Regions from separate parts of the Homo sapiens genome. Here region 1 is linked to region 2. Evidence: fine-mapped QTL for protein levels in blood plasma. Region 2 holds a variant in brackets. A gene starts in the other region. All regions are shown on their reverse strands.

Region 1 (2,911 bases), not on the chromosome of region 2:
ATCCTGGTCGACATGGTGAAACCCCGGCTCTACTAAAAATACAAAAATTAGCTGGATGTGGTGGCGTATGCCTGTAATCCTAGCTACTTGGGAGGCTGAGGCAGGAGAATCGCTTGAACCAGGGAGTCAGAGGTTGCAGTGAGCCGGGATCGCGCCACTGCACTCCAGCCTGGCGACAGAGAGAGACTCCGTCTCAAATAATAATAATAATAATAATAATAATAATCATCATCATCATCATCATCATCATCATCATCTGTTGAATTCAGGTGCACATTTCTTCTCTCAAGAAATCCTGCCCATCGCTGAAGGTGCACACCCCAGGGCTGGTGTCCTCGTTCCATGACACCTGTTCACCTGGACCCCTGGAAGCAGAGCCTGCAGGAGCAAAGCCCCAGGGCTGACAGACCCCGCCTGCTGTGCAGTAACCAGGGGAAGTGTGGCTGAGTAAGATACGGGTGGTGAAGAAACCCATTCTGATACCCAGATAGCTGCAACAAAGGGAGAAGTGTGTGCCCTTTTCAAATTGACCCTTTCCCTTCTGACATTTCTCCCTTCCAAACCCCACAGTACAACAGTTACAGCCTCAGTTTCCCAGGCCTCCTGCGAGCCAGGCTTCCCCCCGCCCCCCGTCCTTCGTGTGTATCAACATGCAGAATCCTCACCTCCACAGCCCCGTGTCCCTCTGCTCAGGCCTCCTGAGACTGAACCCCTGACCTAGGGGAGAACGACCCCACCTTGCCTGTGCCCCCCACTGAAGCTCCCGTCCTGGGGAGCTCAGACGTCAGGAGCCTCCGTGTCTCCCCTCTGCACAGTGACTCCTTGAGGACAGTGTCTGGCTCTGCTCTGTTGACCTCGTTGTGTAAAGAGGAGGTGCCCACTTCGTTGCTGCTGAGAGAGGGAGGAGAGGCTGCCTGCTCACCTCACCTGCACCCCAGTCTCTCATGGCCCTGAGTTCCACCTTTGGCTGGTATGACCTCCACAAACAGTGACAGCCCCGGGGGTGATTCAGGGGTCTGGCCAGATGGGACCCAATTTCACCTTGCAGAAAATGTTACCCAAATGGAAGGGCAAGTCCGGGAAGCAAGAAAGAGGTTGGGCCCTGCATAGGGTGGGAATCTGGATGAGTTTCTCACCCTCTCTGGCCTCAGGGTTCCCAGGAGTGGAAATGGGGTGGTGGACAGTGGATCTCCCAGGACTGACCCGGCCCTGACAGTGTCTGTGTGTGAAGTTCCTCCTCTGAGGAGGTCACTTTTCTGACTTCACCCCCAACCTCCTGCGGGACCTCCCCTAAGTCTTGAGACCTCAGTTTCTGAGAGAAGAACCCTGAGGAACAGACGTTCCCTGGCGGCCCTGGCGCCTTCAAACCCAGACATGCTGCTGCTGCTGCTGCTGCTGCCCCTGCTCTGGGGGACAAAGGGGATGGAGGGAGACAGACAATATGGGGATGGTTACTTGCTGCAAGTGCAGGAGCTGGTGACGGTGCAGGAGGGCCTGTGTGTCCATGTGCCCTGCTCCTTCTCCTACCCCCAGGATGGCTGGACTGACTCTGACCCAGTTCATGGCTACTGGTTCCGGGCAGGAGACAGACCATACCAAGACGCTCCAGTGGCCACAAACAACCCAGACAGAGAAGTGCAGGCAGAGACCCAGGGCCGATTCCAACTCCTTGGGGACATTTGGAGCAACGACTGCTCCCTGAGCATCAGAGACGCCAGGAAGAGGGATAAGGGGTCATATTTCTTTCGGCTAGAGAGAGGAAGCATGAAATGGAGTTACAAATCACAGTTGAATTACAAAACTAAGCAGCTGTCTGTGTTTGTGACAGGTAAGGCACGGGCTCCAGCACAGGCCACAGGGGAAGGTCATGAGGGGCTGAAAGGCAGGGCTGGGATGGGGCCTGGGAGGGGGTTGGGATTGAAATAAGTCGGTCTCCGGGGAGGAGCTGGACCAGAGCTTGAGCTTCCTCCAGGGCTGCACCTGAAATACCTCCTCCTGATCCTGTGTCCCCATCTTCACCAGCCCTGACCCATAGGCCTGACATCCTCATCCTAGGGACCCTAGAGTCTGGCCACTCCAGGAACCTGACCTGCTCTGTGCCCTGGGCCTGTAAGCAGGGGACACCCCCCATGATCTCCTGGATTGGGGCCTCCGTGTCCTCCCCGGGCCCCACTACTGCCCGCTCCTCAGTGCTCACCCTTACCCCAAAGCCCCAGGACCACGGCACCAGCCTCACCTGTCAGGTGACCTTGCCTGGGACAGGTGTGACCACGACCAGTACCGTCCGCCTCGATGTGTCCTGTGAGTGCTGGACCAAGATGCCCAGGTCCCTCATGGGTTGGGAGGTGTTCCTGAGGGCAGGGGATGGGGTTCAAGCCTGGACACTGGGTTCTGGGTCCCAGAATCTGGGCTGGGAGTGGGGTCAGGAGAATGCCGACTCCATTTTCCCTGTATTTGCAGCTCCTGGGAAGACAGGGCCAATGTCCCCAGTCCTTATAGTAATGTGGGTCTTCATGTCTTTCTGTCCCAGACCCTCCTTGGAACTTGACCATGACTGTCTTCCAAGGAGATGCCACAGGTAGGACAGAGCCCCCTCCCTGGGGTTGGGGGAGCAGGGCCTTCAGCTCAGGATGGGGCTGGGTCTCTCCTCATCCTGGAATCACTTTGGGAAACAGAGCTGCCACTGTGCGTGAGCCCAGGGCACAAGAGCCCACATCTCCAGCCCGCGTGACCATCTGAGCCCCTGTCCCCATCCTGTCCCTGCTCCCCTTAGACTCCTCCACACACCCCTTCCTTGGCCCCACAGCAAGGACAGGGTGACATTCACACAGCTGGATCAGACTCCCAATTTTTTTGGTTTTTGTTCGTTTTTATTTTGGGACCAGACTTTCAAGTTTCTTGTCAGGCATCT
Region 2 (2,911 bases):
GACTAGAAGGAAATATCCTTAATGAAGGATAAGCATCCCGGGAAGACATCGAAGCCAAAAAAGAAACATTCTGTAAACTCCAACCACTGAGTCCAAATTGACACAGACCAAGGCCACACCCTCACAGTGTACATTCTAGTGGAAGAGGTAGACAATAAGTAAATAAGAAATGTGTGAAAAATAGAAAGAAAAATAGGCCAATAGGTCGGGCACGGTGGCTCATGCCTGTAATCCCAGCACTTCGGGAGGCTGAGGCGGGTAGATCACCTGAGTTCAGGAGTTCGAGACCAGCCTGGCCACCCTGGCCAACACGGCGAAACCCCACCTCCACTAAAAATACAAAAAATTAGCTGGGTGTGGTGGTGGGCGCCTGTAATCCCAGGTACTCAGGAGGCTGAGGCAGGAAAATTGCTTGAACCCGTGAGGTGGAAGTTGCAGTGAGCCGAGATCGTATCACTGCACTCCAGCCTGGGCGACAGAGCGAAACTCCATCTCTGAAAAAAACCCCCCCAAAAAACAAAAACAAAAACAAAAGTTGGGGGACAGGCATCAGGCTGTGTGGCTCAGCATCAGAGTACCTTGTGCTGTTTCCCTGCAGAGTTTCCAGATAAATATCAGACCACACTGGAGAGAAATCTCTCCTACCAGCCATTCCAGAATGCCCATGGGAACATGAATCCTGAAGAAAAGTCGAAATCTAACACACTCTGCAAACCACCCTGTTATGAAATCAGAAGAGACCAAAATAGCTGAGAGCTAAACGAGTTCCTTTACCATTTGAAATAGGCAGAAGAAAGAACTTCTTGACTGTAAAGATGATGAAAATTCAGAATAGGCTGCCAGGGAAGATGGGAGACTTTTTTCTTGAAGGAAAGATTACTCTGCAACACTCATGGTTCAAATGTGATTCAGGTGGGAGGCAACCCTGAGCAAGATCAGTTCATACTTGTCCCCAAGATCAGAAACATCTGCTATATCACTTTTTAAAATGTTTTTATGGAGATTCTCAAGCATATAGAAGAATAAAATGATAATAACACATAGACCCATCATCAAGAACCAAAATTTTTAACACTCCACCATATTGGAGTGTTCTGTTTTGTTTTTTGAGACAGAATCTCACTCTGCAAACTTGACCTCCTGGACTCAAGTGATATTCCTATCTCAGCCTCCCCGAGTAGTTGGGACTCCAGGTGCATGCCCCATGCCTGGCTAATTTTTGTATTTTTTGTAGAGACGAAATTTTGCTATGTTGCCCGGTCTGGTCTCGAACTCCTGGGCTCAAGCAATACACTTGTCTCAGCCTCCCAAAGTGCCGGGATTATAGGCGTGAGCCACTGTGCCCGACTGTATTTGTTTTATCTAGATAATGGGTAGACAGATAATAAATAGGTATTGCAAGTCACTTGAAAGACACCATGACACTCACTTCTAAATATTATAATTATCCATCTCCTTAAAATAAAGACATTCTCTACATAATCACAGTTATTACTACTAAGAAAATTATCGATAATTTTCTGATAGCTACTCCATTTCCAAGTCTCACCAATTGTTTCAAAAGTATCTGTCAATGACCTATTTAGATGATAGCTGCAATATGTTTGCCTTGTTTGGGTAGAGACTTTAAATTCCATTTAGTTTTAGATTTACATATAGATGCCAGCATTGAAAATATACCAAAATGTAATA[T/C]AGTCATGATTACAAATGCAATAGTTAGGACTAATAAACTATTCATCAACTGAGAGAGACACATAGAAATGTAAGAAAATGAAATAGAAAAAAAAAAAAGACTGAGCCTGAAGACGTTGATTCATTTATTCAGCAAGTAGACTTGCCCTTGGGCATGTGGTGATGTGCAAGACAGACATGGTCCCTGGGTTCTGGGGTCAGCAGAGCCAGGAGAGGAGGAGTCAAAATGAAAGAGAAACAGCTACCAAGGAATGAGAATCTTCATTGTCTCTGAATGTATTTAGTTTGGTGCAGAAGTAACGCACAATTACTTTTGAACGAACCTAAATACATGCAGAGCCTAGGAAGATTCATAGTAAAGTGACTGTGGAATGCATTTAGGTAAAAGTATAGTAACTATTTACTACAGTAGTAAGGTAAGTATAGTTGTATTTAAGTAAGTATCTACGTTAGTATTTAGGTAAGTATAAACTAATTGCAGTATTTAGGTTGGTGCAAAAGTTATTGCGGTGTTTGCCATTACTTTTAATTCTCCCCTTCTTGAAAAAGTATTGAAAAAGACATTCTTGGAAAAGTCTTCTGGGCCGGGCGTGGTGACTCACGCCTGTAATCCCAGCACTTTGGGAGGCTGAGGCGGGCAGCGGATCACGAGGTCAGGAGATAGAGACCATCCTGGCTACCGCGGTGAAACCCCGTCTCTACTAAAAATACAAAAAATTAGCCGGGCATGGTGGTGGGTGCCTGTAGTCCCAGCTACTCAGGAGGCTGAGGCAGGAGAATGGCGTGAACCCGGGAGGCGGAGCTTGCAGTGAGCCGAGATCGCGCCACTGCACTCCAGCCTGGGCAGCACAGCGAGACTCCATCTCAAAAAAAAAAAAGAAAGAAAAAGTCTTCTGGATATAAGATTTTAAAGTTGACTTAGTCATTGTTTACAGGGACATTTGCAGGGAGGTAACCTGCATACTGGGATTAACAGCATCAAGGAGATGGCTGCTGGATGTCCCTAGTCAGTAGACAGATAAGAAGAGTTACTGGACGACCAGTGAAATTCATCTTGGATAGAAGCCCTGTGGCCCAAATAGAAGAGATAGGGGAATACCCGTTCAAAGAGTGAATGGCTTTTTTCATATGTGTGTGGAGCAGGGAAGGAAGGACATCTCTCCCGCATTCCTTTTCTGAGGGATTTATCTAAAACCTGGCATGTCAGAGATGGAGAGCT

Alleles and levels. Positions count from the first base shown, and alleles are read on the strand shown. Strength reflects both the effect of a copy and how common the allele is.
In carriers of allele C in region 2, the plasma level of the protein whose gene starts at base 1,308 in region 1 tends to be higher than with T alone (moderate association).

What was found. PIP is the chance, under the fine-mapping model, that this variant and not a neighbour inherited with it causes the effect. The UK Biobank Pharma Proteomics Project read protein levels with antibody pairs (Olink). The fine-mapping took linkage between variants from a reference panel, not from the people measured, so its PIPs are less certain.
Region 1: it holds the start of SIGLEC8, and the variant in region 2 is fine-mapped to the plasma level of the SIGLEC8 protein (UK Biobank, PIP 0.98).

What each region holds. Positions count from the first base shown.
Region 1 is chr19:51,456,851-51,459,761 of GRCh38, reverse strand. It overlaps SIGLEC8 (sialic acid binding Ig like lectin 8), which reads left to right and starts at 1,308. Exons shown (of 7, transcript NM_014442.3): 1 at 1,308-1,828; 2 at 2,023-2,301; 3 at 2,531-2,578. The coding sequence starts at 1,375.
Region 2 is chr10:15,480,142-15,483,052 of GRCh38, reverse strand. No RefSeq gene overlaps it. Among named protein-coding and RNA genes, the nearest start is that of FAM171A1, 110 kb to the right of the region's middle. The variant T/C (reference allele first, on the strand shown) is at 1,693.